Homo sapiens: one gene and its partner. The protein of the gene in region 1 interacts with the protein of each later gene in a biochemical or structural test. Each region holds a gene or a part of one and is shown in the gene's direction. Other genes may lie near its edges.

Region 1 (3,819 bases):
TTTAGAATCTAGCTCTTTGGTTTTGAAGCTAAATTAAATCCTATTAAGATCAATACTAATTTGCTTCTTGTTTGAATGCCCTATTCTGAATACCAGTAATCAGTATAAACAGGGAATATTAAAAGGAATATTTTGAGGGAATGCTCAAAAACCAGTTTCAAACCTATGAGGATCAGATGGGCCAGCAGGGCTTCTTGACAGACCAGCATTGGGAGAGTTGTTTCACAAGAGAATATGTTGGCATGGTGTGAACACCAAGGGGAGGGACAAGAGGTCCCCAAAAGCCTCCTGGTCATGGAACATCTGGAGCTGGATTCTGAAAGATAGAGTATGTCAGCTGTGGAGGAAGATTCTAAGAACGCAATGGCAGAAGCTTGAGAATGAAGACTAGGTGGGTGGGCCCTGGATGGGAAGGACGAGGCGGCCTATGTTTCAACACCTCCCGTGACAGGAACTTCATTTCATTTCATTGTCTCTTGCCACCTACTCCCATGGCCCTTTTGATCTGACCTCATTCTCTTCTGGCTCCACCTGTTAGAGGATATAGGGGAGCAGACACCCTCATATGCTGCTGGTGGGAAATCTGAATTGCTTTTTTTTTTTTTTTTTTTTTTTTTTTTTGAGATGGAGTGCAGTGGTGCAATCTCGGCTTACTGCAACCTCCACCCCCTGGGTTCAAGCGATTCTCCTGCCTCAGCCTCCCGAGTAGCTGGGACTACAGGTGTGCGCCACCACACCCAGCTAATTTTTGTATTTTTAGTAGAGATGGGGTTTCACCATGTTGGCCAGATGGTTTCGATATCTTGACCTCGTGATCTGCCTACCTCGGCCTCCCAAAGTGCTGGGATTACAGGCGTGAGCCACCATGCCAGGCCCTAAATTGCTTTAATTCATCGAAAAGTAACTGGGGGCTAGGCACAGTGGCTCATGCCTGTAATCCCAGCATTTTGGGAGGCCGAGGAGGGAGGATCCCTTGATCTCAGGAATTTGAGACCAGCCTCAGCAACATAAGGGAGGCCGTGTGTCTACAAAAAGTAAAAAAAAAATTAGGTGGGCATAGTGGTGCACTCCTGTGGGCCCAGCTACTCTGGAGGCTCAGGTGGGAGGACCACTTGAGCCCAGGAGGGCGAGGCTGCCATGAGCTGTGATGGCACCACTGCACATCAGCCTGAGCAACACAGCAAAACCGTGTCTCAAAAAATTAAAAAAGCAGCTAGGTACATATCTTTACAAGTTTAAAATACGCTTAGCCTTTGACCAGCAACTCTGCTATTAGCAATCTATGCCATAGAAGTGTTTTATTTGTTTTGTTTATGTTTGTTTGAGGCAGGGTCTGTGCTGCTTACATTACAGTATTGTTTAATTCCTGACCCCTGGTGGTTCACAGGTGAAGGTTGTCATCCTGGGACAGGATCCATATCATGGACCTAATCAAGCTCACGGGCTCTGCTTTAGTGTTCAAAGGCCTGTTCCGCCTCCGCCCAGGTACAGTTGCTTTACAGGTGACTGCAGTCCAGACATGATTCCTTTCAGATGTGTACTTAGCTTATTACAAGTGGGACTATCTGGGGCACTGTTCACTAGCCTTGGAGGAGGATTTCTCGGCCTCAGCACCATTGACATTTGGGGCTGAGTCATTCTTTGTTGTGGAGGAGGAGAGGAGTCCTGTGCTATTGCAGGATCTTGTGCCACATCCCTGGCCTCTACCACTGGAAACCAGGAGCAACCCCCAGCTCGTGATAATGAAAAATGTGCAGACATTGCCAAAAGTCCCTTGGGGGCGTAAAATCACCCCTGGTTAAGAACCACTGCTTTGGGCCGGGCGCGGTGACTCACGCCTGTAATCCCAGCACTTTGGGAGGCTGAGGCAGGAGAATCGCTGGATCCCGGGAGGCGGAGGTGGCAGTGAGCCGAGATCCTGCTACTGCACTCTAGCCTGGGTGACACAGCAAGACTGGAAAAAAAAAAAAAAGAACCACTGCTTTTGGAGGATTTGGTGTATGATATACATAAATATGCTAAGGACAGAAAACTGTCCCTGAGCAACAGTGGGGGTCTGGGTTGTAACTGCTGGGTTGATTTACTTAGGTTTTCCAGAGTGCTGTTAAATCCAAGTACAGACTAAAGTAAAGGTCTTTGGCAGAGTCACCTGTTAGAAGGAGGACTGGCAGTGTTGATCTCATTAATCGGCGCCATATGTGCCAGTGTCCCTTCCAAGGGCTGGCTGTAACTTCTAACCTTTTCACATATGTCTTAGACGTTACTGAGCTTTCAAAATTATGCTTAAGATTCTGTTTTTTGTTTTTCTTGTGGCTTGCTTTCAGTTTGGAGAACATTTATAAAGAGTTGTCTACAGACATAGAGGATTTTGTTCATCCTGGCCATGGAGATTTATCTGGGTGGGCCAAGCAAGGTAAGCCAGCGACTGCTAGATTTTTTTTTTTTTTTTTTTTTTGAGACCGAGTCTCACTCTGTTGCCCAGGCTAGAGTGCAGTGGTGCAATCTCAGCTTACTGCAACCTCTGCCTCCCAGGTTCAGGCGATTCTCATGCCTCAGCCTCCTGAGTAGCTGGGACCACAGGCATGAGCCACCATAGCTGGCTAATTTTTTAATGTATTTTTAGTAGAGACAGGGTTTCACCATGTTGGCCAGGCTGGTCTCGAACTCCTGACCTCAGGTGATCCGCCCGACTCGGCTTCCCAAAGTGCTGGGATTACAGGCATAAGCCACCACGCCCAGCCCCGACTCCATTGTTGATGGTAGTGGCTGCTGCCATTATGCCGGCTGCAGCAGGGAAGCACAGCTTGCTACACTGGATCCCATCAAGCATTGGTTTCATCATGGATTTAGCTCCTGTTGCTGGGTATTGGGCTGATTTGCCTGAGCCTACATTTAACCTGTTTCTCTCATGTGTATAGGTGTTCTCCTTCTCAACGCTGTCCTCACGGTTCGTGCCCATCAAGCCAACTCTCATAAGGAGCGAGGCTGGGAGCAGTTCACTGATGCAGTTGTGTCCTGGCTAAATCAGAACTCGAATGGCCTTGTTTTCTTGCTCTGGGGCTCTTATGCTCAGAAGAAGGGCAGTGCCATTGATAGGGTATGTTTTGTTTTCTTTCTTTTTTTTCTTTTTTTTTTAACACTATAAAAACAATGTAAAGAATTCTAGGAGTCCCTGCTGTGTTTGGTCCTGGAAAATCCATGTTATAAAATAACTTTTATTTTCCCTTAGGCCTGTTATAAGGGTTTCCCATTGAAAACTGAGAAGAATTTGGACAAATTATAGGGGTGATGAGTTGTGTATGAGGAAAGCAAAGCAACTGGCCAACTTGTGACTGAATGCAGTTGGTGCTGTAGGCATGAACTTGGTGTCTACAAGATACAAGTCCCTGGGTACCATTCACTTAACAAGTGATGGATGAGGCATGTTTCTGGCTTCCAAGAAATTTGGGAACATATAGAAAACACAAAGAATTCCACTCAATCACAAATTTAACTTGCCCATGAAAATACTATCAGTGATCATTATTGTTTTGTTTCTGGGTTTTTTGTTTTTTGATGGAGTCTCGCTCTGTTGCCCAGGCTGTAGTGCAGTGGTATGATTTTGGCTCACTGCAACCTCCGCCTGCTGGGTTTAAGTGATTCTGCCTCAGCCTCCCGAGTAGCTGGGACTACAGGCGCCCGCCACCACACCCGGCTGATTTTTTTTTATTTTTTAGTAGAGACAGGGTTTCACCATGTTGGCCAGGCTGGTTTTGAACTCCTGACCTCAAGCGATCTGTCCTCCTCAACCTCCAAAGTGCTAGGATTACAGGCATGAGC
Region 2 (3,819 bases), on another chromosome or scaffold:
CTTGACAACCATATATAATGTTTATATTACGTTCATATAAAATTGTCCTTTTACTCTTGGAATTCGACATACTGTTAGGATTTTCACAAATTAGTTTAAGGCAGAGCAGGACAAGGCCCAGAAAAGGGTGGCTGATGTAATCAGGAAACTGGGTAGGTTCTATTTGAAGATGATATAAAAAGAAATAAAACTGTTTTGAAAAAGATGGGGTCTTAAGAGAAGATAGTAAAAAAGTTTATAAACAGAGTGCTTGACCTTCTTTTCCTATTCACTCACTGCCATAAAGATAAGAGAGGGGCTTATTTAGGGGAATATAGTAAGTTTGTTAAATCCCAGCATTTAAATATTGTAAGGTACTCTTGGAGCAGGTGTTATTAAACTTTTTGGTTTCAAGATACCTTTACCATATTAATAATTACTGAGAACTCTAAAAGGCTTTTGTTTTTGTGTTATATCTATCAGTATTAGAAATTAAAACAGAAAATGTAAAAATATTTATGCATTAAAAATGTGGGCCAGGCACAGTGGCTCATGCTTGTAATTTCAGCACTTTGGAAGGACGAGGTGGGCAGATCACTTGAGGTCCGAAGTTTGAGACCAGCCTGGGCAATGTGGTGAAACCCCATCTCTACTAAAAATAGAAAAATTAGCCGGGGGTGGTGTTACGCACCTGTAGTCCCAGCTACCTGGGAGGCTGAGGCAGGAGAATCAATTGAACCCAGGAGGCAGAGGTTGCAGGGAGCTGAGATCACGCCACTGTACTCCAGCCTAGGCGACAGAGCAAGTCTTCATCTCAAAAAAAAAAAAGTGAACCCATTGCATGTTTGCGTTATTCATGAAAAATTTCCAAAATAAAACCAGATAATTTTAGCAAGTTTGAAAAAATGTCTGGCCTAATATCTCATATCTGCTTCTGTATTCAGTTTTTGTGACATCACATCATCTCTGGAAGACTCTCTTACTATGCAATGAGAGAATGAGAGTGCAAAAGGAAAGTGACATCTTATTATTACGAAAATAGCTTTGACTTCACAGGACCTTCTGAAAGGGTCTCAGACTTCTAGAGGTCTCCAGACTATACTTTGAGAAGTGCTGTTTTAGAATATTGGAAAAGTAGGTTATTATATTTATTTGGAGAATTGTTTAAAAAGTGATGATAGGCCAGGCGTGGTGGTTCATACCTGTAATCCCAGCACTTAGGGAGGCTGAGACGGGCAGATTGCTTGAGATCAGGAGTTCGAGACCAGCCTGGGCAATATGGTGAAACCCCATCTCTACCAAAAATAAAAAAAATTAGCCTGGTGTGTTGCCGCATGTCTGTAGTCCCAGCTACTAGGGACGCTGAGGTGGGAGGATTGCTTGAGCCCAGGAGGTAGAGAATGCAGTGAGCCAAGATGGTGCCACTGCACTTTAGCCGGGGCAACAGAGCAAGACTCTGTCTCCAAAAAAAAAAAAAAAAAAAAGATGACAGCTTACAAGATAACTAGAAAGGGTATAAATACATTTTTTAAACTGGTACATCTGTGTTTATTTATTTTTTTGTTGGTTTTGGAGACAGAGTCTTGCTCTGTTGCCCAGGCTGGAGTGCAGTGGCAGGATCTTGGCTCACTCCAACCTCCACCTCCCAGGTTCAAGTGATTCTTGTGCCTCAGTCTCTGAAGTAGCTGGGATTACAGACACGCACCACCAAGCCCAGCTACTTTTTGCATTTTTTAGTAGAGACGGGGTTTTGCCATGTTGGCCAGGCTGGTCTCGAACTCCTGGCCTTGAGTGATCTGCCTGCCTCAGCCTCTCAATGTGCTGGGATTATAGGCATGAAACACGGTCCGGCCTGTATTTGGATTATTGAAAAAATATGTCCTTGATTTTAAAAATTTATTTTTAGAAATAAAATTAATAAATGTTTCTGCTTTAGAATATGCAGAATCTTTTAAAGAGAAAAGAAAATTACTCTTAGCATTCACTACGTAATATTTGCAAATACACATAATTAATATTATACTTTTAATCAAATTCATCTTTTTTATGAATATTTTCAAAACATAGAAAGGCACAGAGAATAGTTTAACAACTGCTCCATCATTAACCAGGATTGGCATGTTGTTGTATTTGCTTTTGGCTCAGTTCTTTTTCTGCCTCCCCAGAGTCACCCATCTTCTGAATTTGAACCATATTCTCCCCACTCATGTTTTTATACTATATATATCTGTGTGTTCATAAATAATAACGTCATACTGCTTTGCATGTTTTTAAATTATAAATATTTTCCTAAGTTCATCTTTCACAGCTTGCTTTTTTTACCCTTATATTCTTGAGATTTATATATGTTGATATTTATTTAAAATGCTGTATTTCTATACTGCAGTTTATTCTGCCATTGATGGCTAATTTAGTGTTTTTGTTTGGTTTTTTTGGCTATTAAATAAATGGTATCATGAACCTCCTTTTGGAGGCTCTCTTGAGGATATGATGTAGAGCATCTGGTTTGTAGGGTGTCTGTGTTCTTACCTTTATTGGATATTGCCAAATTGCTTCTAAAAATGTTCATACCATTGTCATCCCCCACCAGCAATATATAGGAGCTTTCATTTCTCTACTTTTTTTTTTCTTTTTTTTTTTTGAGGCAGAGTCTTGCTCTGTCACCCAGGCTGGAGTGCAGTAGTGGTGCAATCTCGGCTTATGGCAACCTCCGCCTCCTGGGTTCAAGCGATTCTCCTGCTTCAGCCTCCTGAGTAACTGGGACTACAGGCGCCCACTACCATGCCCAGCTAATTTTTGTATTTTTAGTAGAGACAGGGTTTCACCATATTGGCCAGGCTGGTCTTGAACTCCTGACCTCGTGATCCACCTGCCCTGGTCTCCCACCACACCCAGCCGGTTTTTTCTTTTTTAACTACAAAAGACATCCAACATTTCTCTACTTTCTTGCCAGTACTTGGTATTGTCAGATTTTTAATTTTATATCTTACATTTTTTATTTTTATATCATTAATGTTGTATTTTGAACCCTTTCCCTCATTCTTTAGGGTTCTTTGAAAATGATTGTCAATGGCTGTAGTTTATGAGTGTACTATACTCTAACACATATGGTGCTCTTGTCTATGTGGGTTTTCTCATTCTTTTGCTATTTTAATGTGGCTAATGAACATCTTAATACATAAATTCTTCTGATTATTTCTTTCTTTCTTTTTTTTTTTTTTTTTGAAACGGAGTCTCACTGTGTTGACCAAGCTCGAGTGCAGTGGTGTGATCTTGGCTCACTGTAGCCTCTGCCTCCCAGATTCAAGCAGTTCTTCCTGCCTCAGCCTCCTGAGTAGCTGGGATTACAGATGCCCACCACCATGCCTGGCTGGTTTTTGTATTTTTTAATAGAGATGGGGTTTCAACATGTTGGCCAGGCTGGTCTTGAATTCCTGACCTCAGGTCATCCGCCTGCCTCAGCCTCCCAAATTGTTGTGATTACCGGCGTGAGCCACTGCACCCGGCCTGAGTCTTTTTTCTTTTCTTTTTTTTTTTTTGTGGAGACAGAGTCTCTCTCTGTGGCCCGAGCTGGAGTGCGGTGGCTCAATCTCAGCTCACTGCAACTTCCGCCTCCTGGGTTCAAGCAATTCTCCTGCCTCAACCTCCCGAGTAGCTGGGACTACAGGCGCCCGCCACTAAGCCTGGGTAATTTATTTTTTTAATTTTTATTTTAGTAGTGACAGGGTTTGGCCATGTTGCCCAGGCTAGTCTTGAACTCCTGAGCTCAGGCAATCTGCCCGCCTCAGCCTCCCAAAGCACTAGGATTACAGGCATGAGACCACGCCTGGCCCTGGCCTG

What was found.
Region 2: of the proteins of UNG (region 1) and DCAF1, one has a biochemical effect on the other in vitro, tested with the Homo sapiens proteins (2 studies listed by BioGRID, with this or other methods).

Annotation. Positions count from the first base shown.
Region 1 is NC_000012.12:109,100,515-109,104,333, forward strand, and holds part of UNG (uracil-DNA glycosylase), read left to right. Parts: intron 1-1,387; coding exon 1,388-1,485; intron 1,486-2,324; coding exon 2,325-2,413; intron 2,414-2,918; coding exon 2,919-3,097; intron 3,098-3,819. UniProt on the Homo sapiens protein: Uracil-DNA glycosylase that hydrolyzes the N-glycosidic bond between uracil and deoxyribose in single- and double-stranded DNA (ssDNA and dsDNA) to release a free uracil residue and form an abasic (apurinic/apyrimidinic; AP) site.
Region 2 is NC_000003.12:51,423,204-51,427,022, reverse strand, and holds part of DCAF1 (DDB1- and CUL4-associated factor 1), read left to right. Parts: intron 1-1,014; exon of another isoform or gene 1,015-1,113; intron 1,114-3,819. UniProt on the Homo sapiens protein: Acts both as a substrate recognition component of E3 ubiquitin-protein ligase complexes and as an atypical serine/threonine-protein kinase, playing key roles in various processes such as cell cycle, telomerase regulation and histone modification.